4 linked regions of the Homo sapiens genome follow. The protein of the gene in region 3 interacts with the protein of the main gene of each other region in a pairwise test. Each region holds a gene or a part of one and is shown on either strand. Other genes may lie near its edges. The genes, in order: ZNF474, XAF1, SEPHS1 and ZNF202.

What was found.
Region 1: the proteins of SEPHS1 (region 3) and ZNF474 interact in binary tests that used the Homo sapiens proteins (3 or more experiments, as listed by UniProt).
Region 2: the proteins of SEPHS1 (region 3) and XAF1 interact in binary tests that used the Homo sapiens proteins (3 or more experiments, as listed by UniProt).
Region 4: the proteins of SEPHS1 (region 3) and ZNF202 interact in binary tests that used the Homo sapiens proteins (3 or more experiments, as listed by UniProt).

What each region holds. Positions count from the first base shown.
Region 1 is NC_000005.10:122,146,546-122,153,545, forward strand, and holds part of ZNF474 (zinc finger protein 474), read left to right. Parts: intron 1-2,778; exon of another isoform or gene 2,779-4,058; intron 4,059-5,233; 5' UTR 5,234-5,445; coding exon 5,446-6,540; 3' UTR 6,541-7,000.
Region 2 is NC_000017.11:6,765,788-6,773,173, reverse strand, and holds part of XAF1 (XIAP-associated factor 1), read right to left. Parts: intron 5,823-7,386; exon of another isoform or gene 5,721-5,822; intron 2,532-5,720; coding exon 2,190-2,531; coding exon of another isoform or gene 2,133-2,189; exon of another isoform or gene 825-2,132; intron 62-824; coding exon 5-61; 3' UTR 1-4. UniProt on the Homo sapiens protein: Seems to function as a negative regulator of members of the IAP (inhibitor of apoptosis protein) family. Inhibits anti-caspase activity of BIRC4. Induces cleavage and inactivation of BIRC4 independent of caspase activation.
Region 3 is NC_000010.11:13,345,294-13,353,319, forward strand, and holds the start of SEPHS1 (selenide, water dikinase 1), read right to left. Parts: upstream 3,001-8,026; 5' UTR 2,707-3,000; intron 2,407-2,706; exon of another isoform or gene 1,984-2,406; intron 1-1,983. UniProt on the Homo sapiens protein: Synthesizes selenophosphate from selenide and ATP.
Region 4 is NC_000011.10:123,738,479-123,746,661, forward strand, and holds the start of ZNF202 (zinc finger protein 202), read right to left. Parts: upstream 3,183-8,183; 5' UTR 3,071-3,182; intron 2,983-3,070; exon of another isoform or gene 2,059-2,982; 5' UTR 1,939-2,058; exon of another isoform or gene 1,715-1,938; 5' UTR 1,639-1,714; intron 1,066-1,638; exon of another isoform or gene 956-1,065; intron 1-955. UniProt on the Homo sapiens protein: Transcriptional repressor that binds to elements found predominantly in genes that participate in lipid metabolism.

The sequences.
Region 1 (7,000 bases), on a different chromosome or scaffold from region 3:
AAATCTGAAATTTGAAATAACATTATTAGGATGAATTGTGCTAATCACCAGTATTAAAATACAGATATCTCTCAATTAGTATTAGGTTTCCATGTGAATAACAGACTCTTAAAAATGGCTAAAATAAAAATAAAAATTTACTTTTCTTATGTAAATAAAGTCCAAGAAAGGCACTCCAGGGCTTCTATGATGGTTCCAGCATTACCAGGGACCCAAGTCCATCCAGGCCTCTGCTCTGTCATATCAAGTGTTACATAAATGAAATCTGTTCTCAACTGGCTGCTAAAGCGCCAGTCATCACATCCATCTTCGAAGCATCAGTAAGAAGGAAAGGAAGAGAAGCAATTGTTCTCTTCTTCCTTTTCAAGAATTGTTCTTACAAGTTCCACACAATATTTTCACTAACTACAAAGGAGCTTGTAGATGTGCCCAGCTGAAAGTTGGGGCTCTATTAATTGAGGGAGTTGAGTGGAATGGCTATTGGTAAGGAACTAACTGTCTCTGCCGGACATTAGAAGGGACATTATCTCATCAATTATAAGCCTTGGTGTAAATGAGTCCATCAGTTCCTTTTTGAAAGCAAGATTTCATAGGTAAGACGGACTGGTGAGCATACAAGAATACTAGGCTGGAGAGTGGAGGCTGCTGAATGGGGTGGGTGAACAACATTGAAGATGAACCTCCTCTATTTTAGAATCTTGATCAGAGCCACCATCAGCCCCAACTCCATCTTTCTTGTTTATGTTTTTGTTCATTTAAAGAATTTGAATTCAATACTAATAGAGAAGGGATCATATCATGTATCAACTATATTTCTTTTGTTTCAAAGGGCTAGATTTTTTTATATACTTTAAGTTCTAGGGTAAATGTGCACAACGTGCAGTTTCGATACATAGGTATACATGTGCCATGTTGGTTTGCTCCACCCATTAAATCATCACTTACATTAGGTATTTCTCCTAATGCTATCCCTCCCCCATCCCCCCACCCCACAACAGGCCCCCATGTGTGATGTTCCCCGTGCTGTGTCCAAGTGTTCTCATTGTTCAGTTCCCACTTATGAGTGTGAACATGAGGTGTTCGGCTTTCTGTCCTTGTGACAGTCTGCTCAGAATGATGGTTTCCAGCTTTATCCATGTCCCTGCAAAGGACATGAACTCATCCTCAAAGGACTAGATTATTTTTTAAAAGATATGATCACACTTTTCATTGTGTTCTGTTCCCTCTCTTTTAGAGAGACACCTTCTAATGCCAAGATGGTTTTTGGATTTCCACGGTTATTACATTCTTCTTTGTGTGTTTGTCTCTCCCTTCCCATGAACCCTGAAGAGAATGGAAAAATGGCATCATGTTGATAAAAGGTGATGCCTTCCAGGACATTCTGTAAATGTCCTATGTGCAGATATGGTCAAAACGAATAATTCAGGCCAACTGAGTGAACATTTCTCCAGAGATGCTTGAGGTAAAACTGTCTGGCTTTGCAAAGTGGTTCTCTTTATAAACTAGCAACATTGCTTTATGACGTTTTGGGTGACAGGCCAATTTCTTATGTGATTTAAGTATATGCATTTAGTATTTTCCAGCACTTTTGCTTTTAGAGCTAACTTATAAAGGGAGAGCAACCAACACTGCTGTGCCATGGCATGTTGCCTTTGCACAGTCACTGGCAGAAACATTACGCATTTCTCCATAAGACACCTCCGTTCCCAAAAATTTCACTGGCTTCCAGCTACCTCATCTTTCATATTTTGATACCTTTAGTCACAATAAGGGAAAAATTTCAGGAGAACATTGGAGAAGGAAAGGGATGGTAGAAAAAGAAAAGTTGAAGATTCAAATGGACGTTTTGTGATGTTTCATCGTGTTTGCTGCAGAGAAAATATTTGCAGTGCACAAATGTTTGTGTGCGGTAAGATCTATCCCTAATCAAATGGTGACATGGCTTCAAACTGAGCACTACCTGGCCTCTTGGGGCAGCCTTCACTTTTACCCTGTGCCCATGATCAAGACAGACAAAACACATCATTCATCGTTGGTCTGCCCCATTCCCCCAACTGGTCCCTACCTCTGCTGGTTATGTAGATTTTTCTGAAGATATTGGTGAAATTAAGAAAAGAATCTGTACTGCACATCACTCAGGAAAAACTACATCTAGAAAACAACTGTATATGGCAAAAGTGATTCTTTTTTTTCTTTTTTTTTTCTTTTGAGATGGAGTTTCACTCTTGTCAGCTAGGCTGGAGTGCAATGGCGCGATCTTGGCTCTCTGCAAACTCTGCCTCCCGGATTCAAGCGATTCTCCTGTCTCAGCCTCCTGAGTAGCTGGGATTACAGCCACCATACCCAACTAATTTTTGTATTTCTAGTAGAGACGGGGATTCACCATGCTGGCCAGGCTGGTCTCAAACTCCAGACCTCAGGTGATCCGCCCACCTCGGCCTCCCAAAGTGCTGGGATTACAGGCATGAACCACCGCGCCCGGCCTGGAAAAAGTGATTCTTAATGCAGAAACAGAAAACCAAATACCACACGTTCTCACTTATAAGTGGGAGCTAAACGTCAAGTACACGTGGGCATAAAGATGAGAACAACAGATAGTGAATGCAAGCGGAGGAAGGGCTGAAAAACTACCTATTAGGTACTATGCTTACTACCTGGGAGACAGATTCATGTGTACTCCAAACCTCAGCATTACACAATATGCCCATATACCAAACCTGCACATGTACCCCGAACCTATAATAAAAGTTGAAGAAAAAAAGTCCCCTGTCACTTAACATTGAAAACATTGTGTTCCATAGCCCCAGTCTCTCTCTTCTGCTTTGTCCCTCTCAGAGGCTTCTCCTCTGTGCCTTGTCTGCACTCCTCCTTCTTGCCTCTTCTTTCTTCTAAAAGGAAGCATAACAGCTGGTGAGAGCTTAGTTACCTTCCCCTGAGGCATATGGATAATACATTAAAACAGGGATAAAAACTAAAGGGAAGAAGCTCTGCTGGAGGAATTTAGGCAGAATGAATAATGGAAAGAGCCACGTATTGGAGCCAAAGAGAGCTGGAATTGATTCACAGTTCTGTCATTTAGAAACTGACAGTCTTGGGCAAATTACTTGTCTTTTCTGAGTCAGTTTCTTTACTTATAAAGTTGAAATAATAATACCTGCTTCATAATCATTTGAGAATTAACTAAAATTATGTTTACAAAAAATCTGTGCCCTATCTGGCATATAATTGGCATTCAGTAAATATTACCTCTCTTGCCTTATCAAAAGGGAGATGGAGGGGTTGCTGGGGAAAGTCATGGGGATTTCTCAGTATTCTAATCTGCTGGAAACAGAATTGACTCTGTGTGTGTGTGTGTGTGTGTGTGTGTGCGCGCGTGAGAGAGAGAGAGAGAGAGAGGGAGGGAGAAAGAGACAGAGAGAGAGAAAGAGAGGCAGAGACAATTTAGGGGAAGGAGGCTTATTTGATTGCATTGATTTTTCTAATCTGTCTTCTTAAGTCATATTAGTGTCTGCAATTTCCTAGTATCAAGGAAAATGATAAACTAAAATTCCTCGGTGAACAGAGCCAATAAAGCAGAATGGTTTGTGGAAATAACCCACGGGCTGGATTTAAAACCTAATGAAATAATTTTACCCTATTCCTATGTTCCATAGATCTACTTTCTCTTTTAGATGGTACTGATCGAGTGATAAATTTCTCTGTTTTATTTTCTATGCTGGCCACTCTGGGGCCAACACATACTTTTCCCACATCTGTTAACATTACTGTCTTAGAATCTGTCAAAATGAAGAATAACTTCTTTCTCTGTGCCAGACCTGATTTGATACTCTTAAAGGCAAGGATTCAGACCTTTGTTGGCACCAAAGTACAGGAGCTGGGCACAGATATCACAGCTCTTCTTGTTCTTTATCAAATCCAGTGCCCAGGGTTTCCATATTACCAGGACTGCTGGCCTTGCACTGTCCAAACTGAAGTGTTTGCCGTGATGTAGAGGATCCAGCTTCATACCAGGGGCTGCTCTTCTGTGGTTAAGAATGGATGCTTTAGAGTTTATCACCCTGATAAATGAAACGATAAAGGAAATGAAAAAGGTCCTGAGGCTTCTGAAATAATCTTTTTGGGGAGCCAGATTATAAACCCACGGTAAAATTTACTCATAACTTTTCCCAATATACAAATTTAAGATTCTTCCCATAAATGGATATCTAAGCTGCCACTTCTTCTGGTGGGGATCCTTGGGGAATCCAGGGCCTTTGTTTTATATTTAAAAATATTTGGAAGTCATACATATATAAAACAAGAAAGTAGGTATGATACCTTTTTAATAAAAAAAGAGCCTCAAGCAGCATCTGTGTATCATCTTTCCATGAAAGATCTGCAGATATCCCACCAGGATGGGTGCCGGCCTAGGCTGTACTCTTTGCTGGAGAATTATAGCTCCACTTTATTAATACCCTATTCCCATAATAAACAAAAGTGAATACATGATGTGTCACAAGAAGTTTATGTCCCTCTGAGGGCTATCCTGATAATCCTCATAAGATTCATTCTTGAATTACTTCTTCTGCAAGAGTTCTTAATTTCAGGTCCATGGACACTCAAGAAGTCTGTGACACAACTTTACCTCAATTAAAATGTATATCACAACTAGAAACAGTTGACAAATTATTTCAGTAAAACTGATTTCACCTGTGATAGCAACAATTTTTATTTTTACTTATAAAAATACTATTCTGAGAAGTGCATAGGCTTCACAGAATTGTCAAAGGAATCCATGTCACTAACAAGTTAAGGATCTCTGACGTAGTGGAAGTTTCTGTGGGGCCCAGGGGGTCTTTTCGTATGACCTGCTGATTTCATTAATCTAATATTCACAGTTTGCAGTTTTCTCTTCTATGGTCTCACCACCCTGGTCTCAGCCTCTATTGCTTTGCGTCTTCTGTATCTATGATGTGCTGTAATTGTCAAGTTAACTTTTTGGGCAGAACACGATTTTCAATACAGTGATAGTGCAATTGATGATGGAAGATTTCCTCAGGTTTATGTCAGTTTATTGACCAAATCCCATATGCTGGTTACTGTGCTAGTCAAAAAGTATACAAGGTCAATATTTAAAACAAGCAAAAAAAAAGCACACACACACACACAAAACAACCTAAATGTGTGTGTGTGTGTGTGTGTGTGTGTGTGTGTTTACATAATAACTTCTTATGTCTCCCACCCGCCTCCACAGATCTTGGAGACATCTCAGCTTTAATGAGGACTTTCCAACATTCCAGACTGCCGTCCTGCAATGAAGCTCTGAGTCACGGTCTGTGAGGCTAAGGTACTGGCAACGGTGTGAACCCCAGGACAACTAACCTCACTAACCTTCACTCTAAGCAGAAGCCCAAAGTGAGTCTGGCCTGAAATCAGAGCAAGCACTACAGAAAGACATCTTTGTTAATGGAAAGAGGAAAGAAGAAAAGAATTTCCAATAAGTTACAACAAACTTTTCACCATTCTAAAGAACCCACTTTCCTTATCAACCAAGCTGGGCTTCTCTCTAGTGACTCCTATTCTAGCCTTTCCCCAGAAACAGAGAGTGTTAATCCTGGTGAAAATATAAAGACAGACACTCAGAAAAAGAGACCTGGGACTGTGATACTATCAAAACTGTCAAGTAGAAGAATTATATCGGAAAGCCAGCTTAGCCCCCCTGTGATCCCGGCCCGCAGGCCTGGATTCCGGGTATGCTATATCTGTGGCCGAGAATTTGGGTCCCAGTCAATTGCCATTCATGAACCCCAGTGCTTGCAGAAGTGGCATATTGAAAACAGCAAGTTGCCCAAGCATTTGAGGAGGCCAGAACCCTCCAAACCACAGTCTCTCAGCAGCAGTGGGTCCTACAGTCTTCAGGCAACTAACGAGGCTGCATTTCAGAGTGCCCAGGCTCAGCTGCTGCCCTGTGAATCCTGTGGCCGCACATTCTTGCCAGATCATCTTCTTGTTCATCACAGAAGCTGCAAGCCAAAGGGTGAGGGTCCCAGAGCACCACACTCAAACAGTTCTGATCATCTTACTGGCCTCAAGAAAGCTTGTAGTGGAACCCCAGCCCGACCAAGGACTGTTATCTGCTACATATGTGGTAAGGAATTTGGCACCCTGTCCCTTCCTATTCATGAGCCCAAATGCCTGGAAAAGTGGAAAATGGAAAATGACCGGCTCCCTGTGGAGCTCCACCAGCCACTCCCACAGAAGCCTCAGCCCCTTCCGAATGCACAGTCCAGCCAAGCGGGACCAAATCAAGCTCAGCTTGTGTTCTGCCCACATTGTAGCCGAATCTTTACCTCAGACCGCCTCCTGGTACACCAGAGAAGTTGTAAAACTCATCCTTATGGGCCAAAATATCAGAATTTGAATTTAGGGAGTAAAGGAGGCCTAAAAGAGTACACTAATTCCAAGCAGCAAAGGAACAGGGCAGCACCCAGTGTAACTGATAAGGTAATTCATGCCACACAAGACGCATTAGGTGAACCTGGTGGTGCCCTCTGCCTGTAGGGGAACAAGAGAAAACTATCCCCAGAATCAGCCACCTCAGCCCCTAGTATTTTTTCTATCAATGCCTTGTATCAGCCTCAAAGCAGCCTGTTCAAGTTAACTCCCTGTTGAACTCCAGGGCCTATACCTCTCTTGGCTGAATAGATATAAGAACATCCTTGCCTGATGGGTTCATATTCCTCTTCAATTCTGCTGTCTAAAAGAAGAAGAGATGGACTTCTTTCTTCCCTGATCCCTGATACAAATAATCCCTGGGAGAGACAGTAATTTGAAAATGAGTCATTAATGCTGTGTCTACATTACAGAGATATAATTCCCATTCCAACAGCCAATATTTATTGTCGGTTTATTTTAGTCATCTACCTTAGGAATTCATTTTTGGCAATGCTGGGTTATGCTGAGTTTATCTTACTAAAATAGAATCTGTGTCAAAAACCCCCAATGACTTTAGCAACAATTA
Region 2 (7,386 bases), on a different chromosome or scaffold from region 3:
AAATCTAGCTGAAATTTCTCACTTGTTTTCCTTTTGATGAAGCTAACCACCGGCATTTCTCCTAAGAAATGGATATAAAAAAAGTTTGATATGGTTAAAGTAAGAAGTGCTAGCTCCTAGAATATCTCTGGATATTGCTGTCCCTTGTTACAGAGCATGAGCCCTGCCCAAAGACTGGAGTGTAATGGCATAGAAAAGGTCAGGAGCCCACTGAGCCAGAAGTATAGGAGGCTTGCGACAAAGTTTAACAGGGGCCTGTTGCTATCACTGGGTGGAGGGACAGATGGGAGAACACTCACACCATGGAATCTTAGGCAGCCATTAATAAAAATAAGCCACACTGTTTTGTTTGTAGGGATTTCCTTGGGTATTGCTGAATTTACATTAGGATGTAAAGAAATGTTGCTGGGCGTGGTGGCTCATGCCCTATAATTCCAGCACTTTGGGAGTCTGAAGCGGGTGGATCACCTGAGGTCAGGATTTCAAGACCAGCATGGACAACATGGTGAAACCCCATCTGTACTAAAATGCAAAAATTAGCTGGGTGTGGTGGCGGGTGCCTGTACTCCCAGCTACTCAGGAGGCTGAGGCAGGAGAATCGCTTGAACCCGGGAGGCAGAGATCGCAGTGAGCCGAGATCCCACCACTGCATTCCAGCCTGGGTGACAGAGCGAGACTCTGTCTCAAAAAAAAAAAAAAAAAAAAAAAGATGGCAGCTTTACTGGTTCAAAAAAAAAAAAGTGAAAAAATGTATATAACAGGACTCCAAATGTGTATGTTTGTATGGTGGTTATATAAGAAATTGCTAAATAAAATACAGGGTGTCCTGGTTAAATTTTAATTTTAGCAAAACAATCATTGCATGGAATATACCTACACTAAAAACAATTCTTTGTTTCTCTGAAATTCAAATTTGACTGAATGTCCTGTATTTTTATTTGCTAAATCTGGCGACTCTGTTATATAAGGATGGAGAAAACTGTGAAAGGAAATATACCAAATTGTGGGAGGCAAGGAAAAATGGCACTAGTAACACCCCCAGCAAATATGAAATGAACCCATTTTTGTAAAATTATATGCTTATGTGCATACATAGATGCACAAGGAAGTTAGAAAAAAAGGTTTTGGCATACTAAGTCTTTTGTAAGAAGCATGCATCATATACTAAGTGAAAAAGGCATGTGGCAGAGTAAAAAGTATAGTAAGATAATATGTGTGGAAAAAGAAACAAGTAAAACCCAGTATATGCTTGTTTAGGCTTGTATATGCAAAGGTAGAGCTTTGAAAAGATGCCCATAAGACTGTCCAAAGTGGTATCTCAGGGTATGGGGTTGGGGAATTAGGGTTAGCTTTGCTTTTATACTTCTTTATATGATATTATATCAACTAGCTCCAACAAAATCTAGTACTTATGTATTTTGAAAAAAAATAAATTTTTTAAGTAAGGCATTTAATCTGGAGCTTAAGAGCATAAACTTTGGAGCTATATACATGTGGACTCAGGCTGGATCCTGCCACCTTCTAATTGTATACTCCTTGGAAAGCTACTTCACCTTATCTGTAAAATGGAGATAAAATGCATGCCTATTGTTTATGATGAAGATTATAAAGAGCTCTGTATTGTAACTGGCACACAATGGTTAACAACCTCTAATGCCAGTTATTATTATTACTAGAAAATAACCTAGGACATAAAAATCATGATATTCAGGGAGATGCCTACAAACCCTGATCTTCTTGAAGCAAACCTTGATCTGCTGGAGGTAAGCCACCACCAACTGGCTTAGGATCTTGACCAAGACATCTCATCTCTGGGCCTCAGTGCCATATCTACACCATGAGAGAGATAGACTGGGTATCCTCTGATTCATTCATTTACTCAACAGTTTTGAAGCAGTTGCTCCAAATCAATCCCTGGCCTAGAAGCTGGAGACACAGAGAAGAGGGACCTGGCTCTACCTTCAAAGACCTGGCTTGAGTCAAAGGTGACTCAGTCTCTCGGAGGTGATGCAAATAAACCAGGTGGTAAGTGCTACGAGATAGTGCATTTGGGCACCCAGAGAAGTGGGAGTCAGAGAAAACGGCCTTTTCAGCCACAACATTTGTGAACATCTTTCAGGTCTTGGATTTTTTTAAGACACTGTGCGGATGGTTCCCAGAAAGGTAAGCAGAGAACAGAGGCTGAGTACCTGATGTTGATTTAGGATCGGCAGGGGAAGCAGGATGCCACACTGAGAACATCTCCTCAGAATGTCATAGGCTGCTTTATCTCCTCTAGGGGAGCTGGTCCTGGGCTTGGGCTCTGACATCAAAAGTGGATCCAAGGTTTTGTTTTTGCTTCTTGGTGCTTTCTTTGATGAACTTTCAGAATGAAGAGGAAATCTGTTTATACTTCTTGTCTTTGGACGAACATCTTTCTCCATCGTGGAAGTTTGATTTTCAGCAGCTTGACTTGGAAGAGATGAAGGAAGAATTTCTGGATTTCCAACAGGAAAGTGTTTCTTAAACTCTGAGTCTGGACAACATTTACCCTGCAATTGTGAATAATATATCAAATTTTAAAATGACTTCAGCTTTAATGGTCAGAAAATACAGTAGACTAGATAACACAAGAAATTCCCACTGTAAACACTTTTATATGGTGTATAAAATGTGACAGACATTCAATTTAATAGCTGGCTTTGCAGGAAAGAAAGAAAATTTTGCATTCCAGGAATGAAGGTCTGACTGGTTGCTATGGTTTGAATGTGTCTCCTCCAAAATTCAGGTGCTGCCAATGTGATGGTATTAAGAGGTGGGGCCTTCGGGGGTGATTAGATCATGAAAGGTCCTCCCTTTTTAATGAGATTAGGGTCCTTATAAAAGAGGATTCATGAAGTATTTGGCTACAGCCTTCTACTCTTTTGCTTTCTACCATGCTAGGAGGCAGCAAGAAGGCCCTCACCAGACACCAAATGGTGGTGCCTTGATCTTGAACTTCCCAGTCTTCAGAACTGTTCGAAATAAATTTGTGTTCTTTATTATTACTCTGTCTGTGGCATCCTGTTATAGCAGCACAAATGGACTGGTTAAGCACAGGAGTTGACACTGCTTATGGGAGATGTAGGGTCAACTTTGTAACTAGGGGCTTGGATGACAGGAAAGTCCCATCCACACAGGTGGGGATTTGGAAGTAAGACTCTATTGATCCTGCATAAAGCTGGAAACTTTAAAGGATAAATTATGGTGGGTAAGAGGAAAAGTATCAGCTAATGAGAAAAGGAAAGTGGCAAGGAAGCTTTTCTTTCTTGGGTCGGTATTTGAGTGTGGAGATGAAAACTTATGCCCCTGAAAACTCAAAATCACAGGTCCATGCCATTCCTGTGTGTGGGATTAGGATTTACTTTGGCCTCATGGTCTGGGAATCCCTGAGCAGAAGAATTAACATAAACATTGAGATGTCTGGCAGAAGCAATCACAAAATTCCTCTGGAGGGACAACAGCCTCAAAATAGGTCATAGAGGATCCTCATAGGTAGAGTCCCACCAGATAGAAACTCACAATCCAAAATTACAAACACACAAGGAAGCAATCCACCTTGAGTAAGAGTCACAGACACAAAAGTAGTCAGATTAGCCTCCAAGAAGTTCAGGTAATGCAACTATAGGATAGAGACTGTAAAATAAATTAATTAAAAATGATTAAATCTGGGAAAAGAATAACATCTCATGAAAAACAGAACAGGTAAATTTGAAATTTTCTAATTTGTAATTAACAAATAATAACTTTATATATTTATGGGGTACAATGTGATATTTTAATATATATATACATTGTGGGATGATTAAATCAAGTTAATTAACATATCAATCACTTCACATACCTATCTTTTTTTTGTAGTGAGAACAAAAATAGGCAAATTTGAAAGAAAGATAAATTGAACTTCTAGACATGAAAAATGCAGGTATTGAACCTAAATGGATGGGCTAAAAACAGAAAATTAGATTTGGCCAAGAAAGAATGAATGAACTTGGAGATAATTTCAGGAAATTACCCAGAATATAAGAGATAGAAATAGAGAAAATATGAAAGGTTAAGAGACATAAGGCGATTAAAAGAGAGAAATGAAAAAAAAGGAGAGTCATGAAAAAAAAGAGAGTCATGAAGCTAGAATGAGAATGCTTAATATACATGTGTTATGTTCCAGAAGGAGAGTTGAGAGAATGTGGGAGAGTTGGGGAATGTTGGGAATTCAAAGAGATAATAGATGAGAATTTTCAGGCCTGATTAGTGACATAAATCTTTATATTAAGGAAAGAGAAATCCTGAGCAGGAGAAAAGCAAACACATTTGAGTACATTGTTCTGAACAGAATGAATAAAAATAAAACTACTCTTAAACACGTTACAGGTAAAAGGCAAAGAGGATCTTGAAATCAACCAAATATAAAGATTACGTACAAAGGAATGGCAATTAGGCTGGAAGAAAATACATCAACAGCAATAACAGAAGTGGGATGGCAGTGGAATAATCTTCAAAATGATAAGAGAAAATAGCTGTTAATCTAGATTTTGATATCCAGCTAAACTATCATTCATGGATGCAAAAAACAAAAAGCTTATTTTCAGGCAACTAAAGATTTACTACTCAAGGTTCTTGGTGAAGAAGCTACTGAGATGTATTTCAGGAAGAGAGAAATCATACCCAGAAGGAAAGCTTAGGATCCAAGGAAGAATGTGAGTAAAGAGAAGGGTAAACTTGTGAGTATATCCAGCCGGGCACAGTAGCTCATGCCTGTAATCCTAGCACTTTGGGAGGCCGAGGTGGGCAGATTATGTGAGGTCAGGAGTTCAAGACCAGCTTGGCCAACATGGAAAAGCCCATCTCTACTAAAAATACAAAAATTAGCCAGACGTGGTGGCACACACCTGTAGTACCAGCTACTTGAGAGGCTGAGGCAGGAGAACTGCTTGAACCCAGGAGGCGAAGGCTGCAGTGAGCCAAGATCGTGCCACTGCACTCAAGCCCAGGCAACAGAGTGAGACTTTTGTCTCAAAAAAAAAAAGAAAGAAAGAAAGAAAAAAAGCAAAAACAAAAACATGTGAGTATATCTAAACAGGCATGAGTTACATAAATAACAACAATAATCAGTAAAGAGGGGTAGTATGAAAGCAAAATGAAACAAAATTCTGGCAGCATTTTCATGTAAGATAGTTACAGTGTTAACATGTTCTCAAATCTATATACTATTTGTAAGGAAAGTAGAGATAATGACTAACTTTAGACTTTATTAAGTCAAGTATTTATATTAAAATGTTAAGGGTAACTATTGAAATGATAGAAATAAATGTAAAATTGACGAATCAGTAGGAAAGAAGAAAGAGAATAAAGAAATCTTGCTCAATCCAATAGAATACAAGGGAGAAGCAAGCAGCAGCAGCAGCAGCAGCAGCAGCAGTAGTAATGAACAAGAGTGGTAAATGCAAGGCCCCAAAACGATGGGGGAAAATTATTGTTAACATCATTGAGAGTGATAAAGGCATTGTGATTAAGAAAATGACTGTATTTTTGAGATATTAAAGAATGATGGTGAAATAACAGGATATCTTGGATTTGCTTTAACATACTTTAGAAAAAAGAAAACAAACAAAGTATAGTTCAAGCCTGGAAAACTTTTGATTTCCACGTGTTAACAGCTATTTTCTCTTAGCACTTTGAAGATTATTCCACTGCATACCCACTTCTATTATTGCTGTCGATATATTTGCTTTCAGCCTAACTGCCATTCCTTTGCTTGTAATCTTCTTCGGCTGATTTCAAAGAAATCAACCTTTGCCTTTTACCTGTAATGTATCTAAGAGTAGATTTATTTTTATTCACCTTGTTTAGAACAACAACTGTTGTATCTGGGGAGTAAATACATGAATGTTTATTGTATTAACTTTCTACTGTCATATTTATTTGAAAGTTTTTGTAATCAATTTTATTTCTTTTATTTTTAGTGGACAAGTAATAATGATACATACTTATAGAATACAGAATGATTTTCTAATACATGTATACAGTGTGTAGTGGCCAAATCAGAATTGTAATAAGATTTTTAATAAACAGATTAAGATGGTCAATAGATTCTATAGCCACCCAAGCTTTCATTTTCAGACATATAAGGCCTAAAAAATTTGCCTCTCATGCTTTCTTTCTCAAGAAACTATTTGGGGATATGTTCTATCAAACAAGGAGTAACCTAAGAAAGAGAAAGATGAGACCTGAGATTTGGGAATCAGAACTCCAACCGTGGAGAGAGTGGAAGAAATTCCAGACCAACAGCTAATCATCAAGCCTGGGGCATAACATGCTCCCAAAATGAAATGGACAGACTATCTGATGTGTGTAGTTGTACTCAGGGGAATTTTCAGATCTGGTAGAGAATTTTAGGGATGATTTAGTGATAGGTACCTAGAAAGTGAAGCAAATGAAAAACCGAAGCAATTATTAAGTCCAGGTAAAACAAAAAGTTGTAGGAGAAAGAACACATAATCACAATTCATGTGGAAAACCATTTATAATGTTTACATGGTTATACTAATGTAATACTGAATATTTATTTAACCAGAATGAGTGAAATCAATACATTGGAAGGATGAAATGAAGAACTTTGGAGGTGTGTGTGTGGGATGGGTGGTATAAAAAAGTGAAATCTATATTCCTAAATCCTTATGAGTCAATAAGTAATATCTAAAACTGGAAAAAATATAAGAAGGTGCTTTAGACATATGAAGGTGATTACCAGAAGAAACAGCTAAAAGCAAAAGTAGAGTATTTGTGTCTGGGGAGTAGTTAGCATGAAGGGGACCAGTGGGGCTTATAGTTTTTCTGAGGTCGTGGGAGACAATTAACAAGGGCCATAATAAGTAAGTAAATTAGATAATATGTTAGAAGTTGGCAAATGCTATGGAAAAAATAATAGAAGAAGGTAAGGGGTTGGTAAATATGTGATGGAGAGGGAGTTGCAATTTTAAATAGGTTGTTGTGGTACATCTCCTTGAGAAGGTGCCATCTGGGCAAAGACTTGAGAGAAGTGAGAGAGTTAGCTCCTGGAGTAGGGTGGGGAAGGTGAGGAGGTAGCTTCCAGCCAGAGGCAGTAGCCAGTGAAAAGGCCCTAAGGCATGGTATGCTCAAGAAACAATCAGGAGGCCAGTGAGCTGAACAGGAGTAGTACATGAGATCAAAGAGGTGATGAGATAAGAAGGGAGGCAAAGATGACATAGATCTCTAAAGCCACTGTAGTTTTGAGTTTGCATAAAATGGGGCAAGAATCAGTACAGAGATCTGAACAGAGGAGCCAAACAATCTGACTTGTATTTTTAAGGGATCACGTTGACCTCTGTGATGAGAATAGACTGTAGG
Region 3 (8,026 bases):
CGTGCCACCTTGAACAGCAAATCCCAAAGGTTCTTCTAGGACTCAGCATTAGAACAGCACCTCTGGGCACTTCATGTGTCAACCTGGAAGCACTGTGGTTCAGAAAGCGGCGGTCCTCGCTAAGGTGACTTTTCCGCAAAATCTTTTGATATCTTTTGCTTTATCACACAGAAGAATGAAACGCCCGATACAAACTTGTCAGAAAAGGGCATTAATGTAAATGCATTGGACAAAATTCTTCACGATGCTAAATCCTTATTTTAGAAAAACACGTTTTCCCTCTGAGCCCAAAGAATATACAACACAAGGATGGGCGTGGTGGCTCATGCCTACAATCTCGGCACTTTGGGAGGCCAACGCGGGTGGATCACCTGAAGTCAGGACACAAGCCTGGCCAACATGGCGAAACCCCGTCTCTACTAAAAATACAAAAATTAGCTGGGCGTGGTGGTGCGCACCTGTAATCCCAGCTACTTGGGAGGCTGAGGCAAGAGAATCGCTTGAACCTGGGAGGCGGAGGTTGCAGTGAGCCGAGATCGAGCCACTGCACTCCAGCCTGGGCGAGAGTGAGACTCCGTCTCAAATAAAAAATAAAAAAATACACAATGCAATCCAAAACTAATAGGAGTCCTCTCTAAAGGGCACAACTTAAAAACTACAGTGGCAGTTTAACACAGTAAGGTCTGTGTTCTTCAGGCGAAAGCCTGGAAAGTTCTCTGATGTTTTCACGCAGTGCTATTTCCTAGAAAGCAAAACATCCAGCCCAACAAACTAGTACACACATCATTGACAAAATATGCTACTCCTCATTAACATTTCATTGCAGAACCGAAACAATAAATTAAGCCATACTAAATCAGCAGCATTTCGGCCCTGTGTACCACCGTTAGGTTTCTGGAACAAGCACTCCTACGTTTTTTAGCCTTTGGGGCTAAAGGAAAAAACAACATGTGTTCCTCGAGTTTACAAACCTCCAGACTGATACTTTATTGGGACTAGAATTACAAACACCCCAAGTTTTAAGGTCGGTTTCCCCTATAAAATTTATGATTAAGAACATAATTCCCATTTATAGAGTTTTCCATCCCTTGGGACGCACATCGCTCATATAAATCTCACGAAGCCCGAGTTTGGGCAGTAATCCAAACCGTCTTCACAAAAACACGGTTTGGGATGAGCAATGATTTCGGTGGGAAACGTAACAACTGAGCAGGAGTCAGCCTTCGAACACGATTCCAAGAAGTCTCCCTGCCCAAAAAGAGCAGGCGCTGGCCGCAAGTGACAAGAGACGAGAATTTTGAAGCCATCTTAGAGTTATGGGAAAGTTTGAATACCACTTTGACTTGGAAGGCGTTTTCAACAAAAACAACAAAGTCCTTTCCTCAAAAAACACCTCGCATTTAACACAGCCTCACCCCTACCAGGAAAAAAAAAAGAAAAAGAAAAAATCCAACTCACGAGGCATCCAGTTATTTTCCTACCTCCTATCTATTCCTCTCCTGGCTCCCAAAAAGGTGGGGAGGGGAATTGTGTGGCTATCACTTCCTTTTAAATTACTATCTTCTCAAGAGTTTTAAGGGTGGAAAAAAGTTTAAAACACCTTGTATCAGGAAGGCGCTCAGATTTAAAATTCCAAATGGTACTAAGGACACAAATCAGCCTCACATCCTAATGAAAAAAGTACTAGATTCTTACATTTTTGGAGGGCATGGGAAGGGGGAGGGGGTTCTGGGGGAAATGTGCAGTGATTAGGGAACCAGGGGGATCCATTTGCATTAATAAGGGACGGTGCCCGGCGACCCCGCAGCCACATGTTTACGCCTTTAAAACAATGGCATGAATATTTAAAGCAACGTTTAGCCCTTTCCTTCCCGGGCACATTTCCATGGTTTGGTTTTTTTTTTTCTTCCAACGAGCGTGGGGAGCCGGGGAGCCGGTCAGCGGGGTGGGCCCGGCGCGCTGCCCCGCCAACCCCGGACCTACCTCCCCGCCGGCCCCGCACAATGGGGCGCGCTCTCCAGGACGCCCGCGTCGGAGGCGGCCGGGGAGGGGAGCAAGGAACCCGGGGACACCTTCGGGCTCAGGCTCAGGCTCAGGCCCTCGCCGCCGCCTCGGAAGGCCCAGCAGGCCCGGGCTGCGGGCCGGCGGCGGGGCGGAGGCGGCAGCTCGGGGCCCCGGCCGGGCCATCCCTGTTCGGGCCGGCGGGAGGCGGCGGGAGCCGGCGGGCACCGCGCGTGCGGCCCAGGAGCCGGGGAGGACGCCGGGACGCACCCGCCCCGGGTCGACAGGGCCCGCGCGGAGAAAAGGGGAGGCGGGGAGGCCCCGGAGGCACCCCGCGACCCCAGGCCGGCCGCTCCCGCCGCGCGCACGGGCCGCCGCCGCCGCCGCGCAAAAATGTCGGCGGGCGAAAAAATTAACCCCTGCGTGGCCGCCGCCGCCCTCCCCTCCGCTCCTCCCCGCCCTCCCTCCCTCCTTCCCCGGCCCCGCGCGGCGGCGGCGGCGGCGCGGGCGGCGCTTCTTTTTTAAAGCGGCCCCACCAAGCCCGGCGCTGCCCCTCTCCAGGCAGGGCTGGCGGGGCCGGCGGCGCGCGGCTCCCCGGCGGTCCCGGGCGGCCCGGAGGGGGATTTGCAACGGCCGCCGCGGGCCTGCGGACCCAGATTCCCCTTTAAGCCTGCGCCTCCCCCCCGCGCCGGGCCCGCCGCTTACCGGCTCGCTTTGCGCCCTCCGCCTCCTCCCGAAAACGGGCCGCGGGCCGCTCCCACAATGCACCGGGCGCGGCCGGGCTCCCTTAAGCGTCGCCTGAATAAAAATGCCGCGCCCGGCGGCGGCGGCGGCGGCGGGGGCCCGGGCCCGCGCCTGGGCGCCGCGGGGGCTCGCCTGCCTCGGCGCGGCCCTGCGGGAGCCGGGCCGCCGCGCTCCCGCCGGCTGGGCGCGCGGGGGTCCTTTAAGGCCGGCCACCTCCCTTTAAGAGGCGGCCCTGGCTGCTGGGTGGCGGCGTGCGGCCCGGGAAGGGGGCGGGGGCGCCGTGCAGCCCCGAGCGCGGCAATGATTGGTCTCGGGGGAGGGGTGGGGGGTTGCAAACCCGAGGAGCGGTGGCATCCGTTGCATGATGCAAAAAAGGATTGATTTCAAAAGTTGCGAGTTGCATTGGCAGCCGCCCTTGGCGCCCGGGCCACCTTTTTCCCGGGCCCCGCTGCAAGGGCCGGGAACGTTTCCGCCACCTGGCCGGGCTCGACCGCGCGGCGCTCTGCGGGGCGCTGTCCCCGCTCCCCGAGTGCGCAGCGGAGCGTCCTGGAAGACAATGACCATGGGAACAATTTGCACAGGAGGCTAGGAGCCCAGGAAAAGCCGCCTGGGCGCCAGGCAGAGGTTTTTTGAAAACACAAACGGCGCGTTAGATGCTTGGGGACTCCCAGCATCTGTCCTTCCTATTGTTTAGCTCGGCTCCGGAGTTCACGGGAGCCTCGTGAAATGTGGAGACGTCCTGCAAAGTTTCTTGAACACTTCATGTGCGTGGTAGGAAGTCGAGGAAAAAGGTTTACGGTTCCCCGCTGGTTGCATTGTTTGTCCTGCACATGTTCGAGCGAACATGGCAGCCGCAACCCTGGATGTGTTCGAATTGACATCGAGGGGGGAGCTTCACGTCGTGAAATAACTTTTTTCTGGGCTTTCGAGATTCTAAAGCATTGCTGATGAAAATAAACCAAATACTTTCAGATATCGTTTAGGGCTTCTCTCTAAAACAGCAGTGTGCAGGAATGCCGATCGAACTTTTCTAGGCAGTAGGTCAGCATTTTCCAAATGTTATTTGGGAGCAGAAATGTTTTGGGTCACTGGACCGTGCTTTACGTGGCACGGCAGGTTGGCACGCTACGCAGATGCCCTTTTCGTTAACATTTCCGCTTGCCAGTTGCTCCGGGTTTTAATCCTGGGCTGGATGCAGAAGTGATGCCACCTCGAAGACAGGCTGCTCCTGTCTTTGTGTACTTTCTTCATACCCTGTAGTAAGTTTGCAAAGAACGTGTTAGTCTGCATTCTTTTATTTTATATTTATTTATTTATTTATTTTGAGACGGAGTCCCACTCTGTCGCCAGGCTGGAGTGCAGTGGCGCGATCTCGGCTCACTGCAACCTCCGCCTCCTGGGTTCAGGTGATTCTCCTGCCTCAGCCTCCCCAGTAGCTGGGATTACAGGCGCCTGCCACTGGAGGATGGCTTCTCCCAGAGGGGAAGACAGGGTCACGGTTCTCATTAAGAGGGTATTGTACTAGTCAAGCCCGGAGATGTACTTGAACTGAAAGCAAGGGGAATGCAGCCCAGGGAAGGGATTTGGTGTGATTTAGCACGTAGGAAGGAGAGGAAGAAGGATAAGATGACCCCCAGGTTTCCAGTTTGCGGGGGTGGGGGGTGGGGGAGGGAATGAGGAGCGATGCTAATAATTTATCTAAGAACTGCTGAAAGGCAAACAAGTTTCGGGGTGAGTTCAGCTTTGGAAATGTTAAATCTGAGGTCTGCCGGATGGTGTGGGGGTGGGGCTCAGAGTTGCAAATCTCAGGTCTGCCGGATATTCCAGACCAAAGTTAATAGGGAAACAGGTCCGGAATTTGGTGTGGGGATGGGGCTCAGAGATGCAAATCTGGGTGCCATCAGCATGTAAATGGTGTTCGAAGCCTCCGTAAGAGGTGAGATTAACCCCGAAGGGAGAGCTCAGGAAAAAAGTGAAAGAGACCTTGGACAGAGCTCTGCAGAACTTGGAAATCAAGTGGCTGGGCGGGACAGAGGCCGATCCCCGCTGCGTCGGTGGGAGGCCACCATCCTCAGAACCGACTCTTCCTCCCCGCCTCCACCCACCACGAGCTCACCGGGAAGCAGTTCTCTGCCGCAGAGGCCGTAAGCCACAGATGCCTTACTTCATCCAGGGCCACACTACAGCCTTGGCCCAGATCATCTGGCAGAGTCATGCATCCTTTTCTTTGCCGGTGATGAGAGCTTCTTCCTTGGGTACTGCTTTGAGCTAGTCCTACGCTCCCCCGCAACTCCCGGGCTCACCAGAACCCCATTCTAGGGAGCCATCCCCGCTGGATTCTCAGGCTCTGCTGGTTCCGTCCAAGAGATGGTTCTCCTGGGTTGCATTGTCTGGTTGGGGCTTATTAAAAATACCAGTTTACCGCTGAGCAGGGTAGCTCAGGGTGCCTGTAACCCCAGGGCTTTGGGAGGCCAAGACAGGAGGATCACTTGAGGCCAGGAGGTTGAGACCAGCCTGGGCAACATAATGAAACCGCGTCTCTACAGAAAATTTAAGAAGTAGTCAGGTGTGATGGCGCATGCCTATAGTCCTAACTACCTCAGAGGCTGAGGTAAATCATTTGAGCCCAGTAGTTCAAGGCTACATTGAGCTGTAATCGTGCCACTACACTCTAGCCTGAGTAACATAGCAAGACCCTGTCTCAAACAAAACAGAACAAAACAAAAAGAACTAATTTACCAGCTTCACTCACTTGAAAGATTACAGCTAGCAGATACAATGGGTTGAATTATGTCCACCACAAAAGGTGTGTTGAAATCCTCACTGCCCCCCATACCTGTGAATGTGGCCTTACTTGGAAATAAAATATTTGCAGATTTAATCAAGGTAAGATGAAGTCATACTCAATTGTGATATGCCCTAAATCCTATGGCTCATATTCTTAGAAAAAAAGGAATATTTGGGCTGGGCGTGGTGGCTCATGCCTGTAATCTCAGCACTTTGGGAGGCCAAGGTGGGCAGATCACTTGAGGCCAGGAGTTTGAGACCAGCCTGGCCAACATGGCGAACCCCATCTCTACTAAACGTACAAAAATTAGCTGGGCGTGGTGGCATATGCCTGTAATCCCAGCTTCTCGGGAAGCTGAGGCAGAAGAATCGCTTGAACCCAGGAGGCAGAGGTTGCAGTGAGCTGGGATCATGCCACTGCACTCCAGCCTGGGTGACAGAGCAAGATGTCTCAAAAAAAAGAAAAAAGAAAAAGAAAGAAAGAAAAGAAAAGGAAGATTTGGAGACAGCGGCACAGAGGAGACACAGGGAAGATGGCCATGCATGTGAAGACCGAGACAGAGGTTGGAGCAATGCAGCTACAAGCTACAGCGGAGGTTGCCGTCAGCATCAGAAGCTGGGAGAGGCAAGGAGGAATTCTTCCCTAGAGCTTTCAGAGGGAGCGTAGCCCTGCCGACACCTTGGCTTCCCGCTAGCAGCCTCCGGGATTTAAACTACCCAGCTTGCGGTCCTTTGTTATGGCAGCCATGGGAAAAGACTCCAGCAGGTCGGAGGTGTATGTGGTGGGGAAGGGATGTGAAGAATCCCCATTTTGCCAGGCTCCCTGGGTGATTCTGATGCTTTTGAAGAACACTGACCTAAGAATTCCACTTCCTCTGAAACCCAGAGGGACGAGAGGCTGCCTGTTCTATACCCCACATCCTGCTCACCCCAAAACAGAAAAGCAGCTCCAGTGACATCACCTTCCTGTCACCTGCCCTTCTCATTCGGGGCTCATGCCATCCAACACTGCCACCATCTGCTGCCAGAAGTGTCACTCCCCTGCATGGTTTGAATCATGCCCATTCAAAAGTGGCCCCTGCTCTGTCATCCCAGGGGATGGAGAGGGTCCATTCTCAGGAATAGCACCTGCTAGATGATGGATGTGCAAATCTGATGACCTTGACCTTAACTCCACTTTAGACACCCATTGTCTTGGCCGTGCTGTGAACCTTCTCGGCCCTGGAAATCTTTCATTTTTTATTCGTTTAGAGATGAGCTCTCGTTATGTTGCCCAAGGTGGTCTCAAACTTCTGGGCTCAAGCAATCCTCCCACCTCAGCCTCCTGAGTAGCTGGGACTACTACCATGCTTAGCTAACCCTGGAAATCTTAAACACCAACACCCTCTCCCCCGTCCCTGAGTCCTCTCCCTTCTTTACATAGGACACCCACACTCTAACTTCATGGGGGCCACCAGTCTCCTGAAGTGGATCCGTTTCATTCTGTTCAGCTTGGACCGTCTGAGGGTAGTTCTGCAGCCTCATCTCACCTCAACCCATTTCATTGACCATGTTCACCCCCACATGTCCAAACTTAAGCCCCTCTACCTGCCTTCTTTGTCCTTCCACTGGGCTGGAGGAAACTCAGAACTTAGAGATCCTGCCATGATGGGCATGTCAGCCCCCAGTGCCAGCCGGGCTTTTCTGACACCTCAGAAATCATTGAGTATGTTATTCCTGATGTTCATTATTCTCCCCAAGGGCTGGTTCACACTTTGCTGCCTTCAAGAGCAGATGCACCTTACAGAAAAGAATTCATGTCCTCAGGGGAAACCCTGTAATTCCCCCACCCTTCCCTGGCCCCACTAGACTCCTCTGACCTCCAGGGTCAGTGTCTCAGAGACAGGACTGCCCTCTGCCGGTCCCAGGCTGGTCCCTGCCTGTACCCTGACTTCCACCCCTCCAACAATAGCTAACCTTTGTTGAGGATTCACTACATACCCCACTGCACAGTGTTTTAAAGCACTGCTTTTAGAATTCTCCCCACAGTCCCCTGCGGTAGGTTTTCCTTTCATGGGGATGGGAACCAGGGTTCCGACTAATTAAGTAATTTATCCAAGGTCACTGTCTTAGTTTGGGCTCCCCCAAAGTAGACCTGGAGACAAGGATTAGGGAGAAGGGAGTTAGTTAATTTGGGAGGTGATCCTAGGAAACATAAGTCATGAAGCAGACAGGAGGAAACAGAAAGGAGAAAGCCGGAAGGAATGTTAGAGTGGCCTACCAACCGTGGGCACCTGGGACTCTGCCCTGTTGAGGCTGCTCTGAGAAATGGTACGGACCCCCTAGGGCAGGCAGATGAATGACGAACTCCAGTAGGTCTATGTCCCAAGCCCCAGAGCCTGTGACTATGTCATGTTACAAGGCAAAGAGGAATTTCAGTTGCAGGAATTGAATGTACTGATCAGAGCCAAGTGTTGTAGTTCATGCCTCTAGTCTCAGCTACTCGGGAGGCTGA
Region 4 (8,183 bases), on a different chromosome or scaffold from region 3:
ATGACAAATTAACCTGAAGCAGGAAAAGGAGGGGACATCAAACCTGACACCCATCCTGATAAGAGTAACTGCTCTCATTTGACAGCCAGAGTTAAACTAGATGTATGCAATCTCTACAACAAACATAGTCAATGCCAATCAGATAGTCAGAGGAACCATCATTTAATGGGAAATAACGCAATAACATATATAACAGAGCTGACCGGAGGTGTTGCTATAGATAATTCATAACAGCAGTAAATTCAAAAGTCATTTACTATGTTTTTAGCTTTGTCATTAACACAGCCTGTGTGGATACTCCCTGTTTCACGTCTAGATGACTTCCTCCTGGCTTTGCTCAAGGGTCCTTTAGCATTTGAGGAGATGATAAGGGATGGGATCCCCGCCTGTTGAACCAGAGGAATCTGAGGAGTACCAGGTTTCCACTGAAGACTAAATCATGATCCAGAGAAGGAATCTCAGAAGTCATTCTTGTCGTGGGCATGGCTTAACGTCTGTCTCCCCACTGTGGGCCCTGCCCTCGAGAGCAAGGGTCTCCTTATTCATTTTTATATTCCCAGTGCCTACCACTTTGTGGAGCCCTTAGTAGAAAAGGTATTCAATAAACGCACATTGAGTTTAAGCTTTCTATTTCTCCTCCCCCAACTAGTATATATTACAGAAGCACTGAAAATTCAGAAATCAGCCAGTGTCAGGGCTCCTGGGTAATAAACCATTCACAGGGATAGCTGTAGGAATTTGGCATAAGCATTTATTCCAATCTCTTGGGGGTAATCAAGTGGCATAATCATGCCCTGCTTTACTGTGTAGCATAAGGCCAGTAGAGAAAAACATCAAGAGGGGAGGAGGACAAGGGATGGAGTTCAATACACAAATATCTACTGAGCGTCAATTACGTGTCCCACACTATTCAAGGTGCTGGGCAAAGAAAGATAAAAAAAGCAGAAGCTCTGACCTTGAGGAACTTAACAGGTAGTTAAGAAATTGCAGAATTTTAGCAATACTAGGAATTCACAGCAAAAGCCCAGAATACAGGTGTAATATTTTGATCAAAACGTGAAGCCCCTATCAAGAGAATTAAGAAAATCAAGGGGAAGAACTTATCAATATTTCACCTCAAATTTGGCATATAGCATTCAGTTGTTTTAAGTACGCTTTCTTAATTTTGCGAACAAAATATTCAGACCTAAGTGATTATCTATAAAAGATCAGATTACTAGTTTCCAACACAGAAGTACTCAAACAAAGGTATTCTGAACCTCAACCTACTGCAATACATATATCACATTTGGCCAAAAGGTAGTTGTTCTCAAAGTGAAGAACCCAGATCTGCAGCATCAGTACCTGAGCCTTGTTAGAAGTACAAATTCTCAAGCCCCAGCACAGACCTATTACCAGAAACTCTAGGGGTGGGCCCCAGCAATATGCGTTTAACTAGCCCTTCAGGTGCTTATAGTAAGTTTGAGAACCACCACCTAGCAAATGAAGTAAATCTGAAGTTCATGCAGAAAGCCATTGCTGGCCAAACTAAAGGGTTTGCTGGTGAGAGAACAGCAAAAACAAGGGGTATAGAACTGTTTCACATTTTAAATCTGTGCCAAATTTACTGGGAAAAAAAAATGTAAACCTGTAACTTACCTCATCTGTACAATTTGCAATGGCTGAGTCCCTCACATTGTGGTAAACCTTGTTGTACCCTTGGAATGATTGTCTACTGCAATATAGTATATACACAGAGTACAAAAAGGGTATAGCTGGAGGAGAAAGGGTGAAAGATTATGAATCCCAGGCGTTTGGTCCTAGGAGGAAAAATTCCTGTCCTCTCTCCAACCCTGCCCACCCTCTTATGCTAGATAGTAACAGCAGAAAGTTATCCCAGACTGCTCCGCGTTCACACGCTTCCCACCAACAAACCTCCTCCCAAGGCTATCCCACAACCTTTCTGAAGTAGCTTCCTGGATCAAGCCCCACGGGGCAGCTTGGAAGAGAAGCTGGGAGGGATGAGGGGCTCCACTAGCATTCCTTGTGGCTTCTGAGTGTAGCTGCCCTGGGTGTCACCTGCAGAGCGTGGATAGAGAAAAAGCAACAGTTCTAAGCCCAGCCTCTAATTGAGAGCCTGGGATCTAGCGCTGCTCCCCAGGACCAAGGTTGTTCAAGAAAGGCTGGGTCTAAGAGTCTCCCTCTGGGGAGGTCAGTACAGATTCCAAGGCAGACAGGGTTATCAAAGCGCCTAGAAGATGAGAACATTCATTGTTCAGAAAAACAAAAATTAGACTGACACCTTTCTGAAGGAACACAGCCTATCCATGGCACAAAAACAAATTTTTAATCAAGACACTCAAGAAGTAGGTATACTCCTGCTAAAAGTAACGCAGGTGCTGAGAAGAGGTGCCAAAACTGGCTGTTAGGAGTGGGAGGAGAGGAAAGTTGCAAGTGGAGACAGCAGCTACTGGCTTGAGGGGACCTCAGGGTCTGTCACAGTGGCAGCTGAAAAGCCTCTGGCCAAATGGACGCCAAGGACTACTATCATCACAGGTGACAAGATCACGGGTGAGTGTATCTGGGTGTGTGCTGGGGGGCTGAGGGGGGCTTGGTGGTGTAAGGAGATGGGGCTAGCCGGGGCAAGGAGCCCGCGGAGATGATCTTAAGCAATCTGAGAGGAGGGGTAAGAAAAAGCTGCGGAAAATAAAGGGGCCTAGACCACTCCTCCCTCGGTTCCGGGGGGACAGTTGGCGCGGAAGCGTTAGGAGGTACGAGGTACGGACTAACTACATTTCTGCAGGCCCCAGGAGGGGGCGGAGGGCGGTGGCTGGAAAGGAAAGGAAGCCGGGAGCGCCATCCGTGTCCCCGGAGATACTGGCTCCGGCCACCAGGAAACACAGAGACCACAACGTCTCGGCACCCTCAGTACACCGCCGCCACCCCTTCCCCAGGACACGGCGATTTCCCCAGACTCTGGGGGGCGGGGTCTCCGGTCCCTCCCCCTCCTCCCCGCCCTGCCCGGCTCTGCCCGATCTGGTCCGGCCCGGTCCAGCCCGGCCCGGCCCAGCCCAGCCCACTCAGGACTCACGGCTCCGACAGCTCCGGCGGCTCCTCCCCTGCCCCGGCTTCTCTCCCACCCACTCCCGACCGAAACAGCGCCGCCGGATCCGAGCCGCGCGGGGCCTAGCGGGTCGGAACACGTGGGGCCTTTGCGCCCGGAACCGGAAGCGATCGCTCGCCCCGCCTTCTCGCCGAGTAGGAGCCTTTCTAGGCTGTGGGAGGTTTGATCCTCTCTATGCGCCCTCCGCGGGTTGCGGCTCAGTGCTCCCCAAGGACCCAGTGCGAAGAAGCCTCGGACCCCACAGCTGCCGTCCGCGACCCCTAACTCCACTCTGCAGCGAATAAATTAACATCTTGGGCCTTTCATTTACAGGCATACCTTCTGCAAGGGTTTTCTTTTTCTTTTCTTTTTTCTTTTCTGTTTTTGATCTTTTGTGTGTTTGTTTTCATTTGGATACCTCTACGTGTTTTTCTTGATTTTTTTTTCTTTGCATTGTCCGCTGCAACATGGTAGAAAAGGGCAGCGTTAGGTTTGAATACTGGCTCTTGCAGTCACCATCAGCAGCAGGGCCTCGGCCGAATCTCTCCATCTTTGAACCCTATTGTGCATCATATAAAACGGGCATAATAATACCGTTACTCTGAGGACTAAATGATACATTGCACATGAACTGAATGGAACATCAGAAGCTCAGAAAGAAAATAGTTATGGTATCACTGTTCTTTCTTTTCCTTTGAGTGTTGCTTCGTATTTCTTTACTTTCAGGCTGTCTTCCCTGATCTCATTTGTTCATTTTTGTCCGTTCGGTGACCTTTCTGCCCATACTTGACATTTTCCTTTGCTCTCTGTCCCTTTTACCCTGTAAGTCACCACTCTCCACGTGCCATGTGCCACTTCCTTTTCATGGGACACATTGCTGGGATCTGTTTACTGGGTTTGAACCAAAGGATTAGTTACTTTTGGTGGAGTGGCAGTGTATTAGCGAAACAGAACTAATAGGTGTGAACCCAGAAGGCAGGACAACTCAAAGCGGGGAGGGGGCTTCCAGGTCATAGGTAGATAAGACACAAATGGTTGCATTGAGTTGCTGATTAGCCTCTCCGGAAGGAGGCAATCAGATATGCATTTATCTCAGTGAGCAGAGAGGTGACTTTGAATAGAAGGGGAGGCAGGTTTGCCCTAAGCAGTTCCCAGCATGAATTTTCCCTTTAGTGATTTTGGGGGCCCCAAATCACTTTCCTTTCACACGGGGTATGTATAAACATATAAAAGGAGATTTATTATAAGGAGTTGGCTTACATAATTATGGACGTTGAGAAGTCCCACCATCTGCTTACTGCAAGCTGGAGAAATAAGGAGGTTGGTGGTATAATTCAGTCTAAAGCTGAAGGCCTGAGAACTGGAAAGGGATTGAGGTGCTGGTGTCTGAAGGCCAGAGAGCAGGAGGAGATGATGTCCCAGCTCAAGAAGAGAGAGGTGAATTTACTTTTCCTCTGCCTTTTTATACTATTTGGGCCCTCAATGGATTGGATGGTGCCTACGCATAGTGGTGAGAGTGATTTTCTTTACTCAGTCTACTGATTCAAATGCTAATCTCTCTCTCTTTTTTTTTTTTTTTTTTTTTTTTGGACAGAGTCTTGCTCTGTCGCCCAGCGATCTCGGCTTACTGCAATGTCTGCCTCCTGGGTTCAAGCAATTCTCCTGCCTCAGCCTCCCGAATAGCTGGGATTACAGGCATGTGCCACCATGCCCAGCTATTTTTTTTTTGTGTGTGTGTATTTTTAGTAGAGAGGGGGTTTCACCATATTGGCCAGAAACACCCTCACAGACACACCGACTAATAATGTTTTCTGTTGTCTGGGCATCCCTTAGCTAGTCAAGTTGACACATAAAATTACCCAATACAAAGAGAAATATACATTTCATGAAAGCCTACTGTGTACCAAATATTTTTCTCTGTAAATCTCATTGAATATTTTAAAATATTGGTATTAAGTGCATAAATAATACATAAACATCTTCTTCTAAACATTTAATGCATTACAGTGTTAAAGGAAAAATTATTCAGTGATACTTGTTAGAGCATGGTAAGGGAGACCTTATTCAGGACCAGGAAAGGTAAAGAAACCACTGCAATGAAGTCTTGCTGTAGGGATGAGAGATTGGGCTGAACTCTGAATACAGAATGGGCAAGTGGGAATTTATAGTCAAGGAACTTTTTTTGGAGTTTGGGACGTCGATGGATTGAAAATTACTAAGGGGAAACATCAGGCTTAAGGCGGATTCTGGCTAAGTCAACCTAATAGGATTCTTGCTGAAGACAGGCCAGGTTGATCAGACATCACCTGGGGCGTGATGGAGGATGAGGACACTGACCAGGTATTAAGGATGGTCAGATATCAAGGATGGGGGCGTTCCTGCCAAAGGACTTAGAGTTCTTTGCTAACAGTAGATTTTACAAGGAAGTACGCCGATAGCCCTAGGAGAAGTTTCAGAAGCCTGACAAGTTTGGCGAAGAAAAGAGATTTTGTCAATGGATAAAGCTAATGACTTTTTTTTTTTTTTTGGGACGGAGTCTCACTCTGCCACCAGGCTGGAGTGCAGTGGCACCATCCCGGCTCACTGCAACCTCGACCTCCCGGGTTAAAGCGATTCTCCTGCCTCAGCCTCCCGAGTAGCTGAGACTACAGGCATGCACCACCATGCCCAGCTAATTTTTGTATTTTTAGTAGAGATGGGGTTTCACCATGTTGGCTAGGATGGTCTCAATCTCTTGACCTCCCGATCCACCAGCCTCAGCCTCCCACAAGTGCTGGGATTACAGGCATGAGCCACCATGCCTGGCCGCTAATGACATTTTTACCAACCCTGGCTTCCTCCTCTCTCTCCAGAAGTTAGCTGTTCTTATGACCCTAATGTATTTATCTTCCAGATATTTTTATTTTCATGTGCTGTGTACATATGTATCCACAGAAAGTACATAGTATTATTTTCTGTGTACTTGTGTGTATACCTGTGTGTTCATGTTGAATTCTTCCATTTGTTTTCTCTTAGCAGTGGGCCTTGGAGATCTGTTGATAGCGGTAAATAAAAATCTCCCTTATTCCTTCTGCTTTCTGCATAACATTCCATAGTCTGAATAGCAATTTGCCTGTTGAAAACATAAGTTTTTATAATTGTTGGGATTACAAACAATGCTATAATGATCACCCTCTTTGTGCGTACATGCAATGGTACTCTGAGACGGATACTGAGAAAGAGTATTGCTGGGTCAAAGGTTGCACACTTTTAATGAATACTGCCAAGTTTTCCTCCCAAATGAATGCACCTGTTTACACCCTTAACAACAGTATACAAGATTTTTTCCCTGTATCCATGCCCTTACCTCATGTTGCCGGAATTGTAAATCTCAGCCAGTTTAATGGGCAAAAATAATATCTAATTGTTTTACTTTGCCTTCCCATCGTTAATGGTGAGACTGAACTTTCTTTCATACATTTGTTGGTAATTTGTAGTTTTCCTGTGAGTTTTATTTTTATATTGGACTTTTTGTTTTTTTAAATTGGTTGTTAGATGTTCTTTATGTATCCTAGATCCTAATGATTTTACGTATATATTGCAAGAGATATATTAATTTTATGTGTCTTGACTAAGTTCATGAAAGCCTGCTGTGTATAAGATGTTTTTCTCTATAAATCTCATTGAATATTTTTAAATATTAATATTAAATTAATGTTTTCCTTAACTTTCTAGATTATTGTCTAACTTTGTAGTATTAAAGTTTCAAATCTGATACACTCTTTCCCCCGCTTCAAATTAGGTGTTTTATTTAAGAATATCTTTTCTGCACCAAAGTCATAAAGGCTTCTCCTGTATGTTCTTCTACTACTTTTTGCTTTTCCTTTTTATGGTTAGATTTGGAATTTATTTTTGTGAATGATATAAATTGGGGATTCTAATCTAATATCAGTGGTAATCAATTTCTACTTGGAAAACATGGAGTATGAGATATTTACATAATAGAGGATATATTTACATACAAAAGATATATTCCATATGTGATGTGATCAGAATTCTGTCAGCGCAGTTAGCTGGTCCTTCATTTGTCAATGATTTTTTGAGTGACTGCTCTTACAAGACACTGTGGTAGGTATATGGAACAGAATGGAGAATAAGAAAGACGTAATATCTGTTCTCGATCTAACTTTCAACTGGTGTGTGTGTGTATGATATGAAGGAGTTGGGGAAGAAGAAAACAGTTTAAATAACTTACGCAATTCACTAACTGTGGTTATTTAATTATGATTAATTAAATTAATTATAATTATTGTAAGTTCTCCAGAGAAATACAGAGTGCTACAAGAACTTGTTACTGGAGGTCCTAATCCTGGTGGTGGTGCTGTTAGAGAGGTAGTTAGGGAAAGCTTTCTTGAATAGTGACATTTGAACTGAGTCTGTGGAATGCCTGGGCAGGATGAGCCTGGGGGTGAGGTTGGGAGATGGGGTATAAACCAAAAAGTGTCTGAGACAGACCTCAATTGATTTAGAGGTTTATTTTGCCAAGGTTGAGGATGCACCGTGGAAAAGTAGACACAAGTTGCAGTAGGATCTGTGGCCTGTGCTTTTTCCAAAGAGGACTTCAATATTTAAAGCAGAAAGAGCAGGCAGGAGAGGAAGGAGGAAAGAAGAAAAAGGGGAGGGTAGGCACCTAGCAAGAAGTCCCATTCTTGTGAAGCTCTGACCAGTGCTCAGCAATCCACATTTTACATCTGAAAAGAAAGTAGTGGGGACAAAGTCAATTATGCATAGATCTGCATTTTCTATGAGGTAAAGTAAATGTGAAGTAAAGTAAATATGCCTAGAAACAAAAGGAATTTCAGAAACACATGTGTTTAGAAACAAAAAGTATGTGTTTAGAAACAAAAAAAAAAGGAAGGCAGTTTTTGCGTGATTTAGCTCCCAAGCATAGCTTTTCCCTTTGGCATAGTGAGTTTGGGGTCCCAAGATTTTGTTTTCCTTTTACTGAGGTGAGTAAAAAAGAATACTTGAAGTAATGGGAAATAGTGTATACCACAGCTCTGAAATGGGAAGGAGCCTTGGTGTACTGGAGAAACTGAGAAGAGGCTGGTGTGGCTGCGGT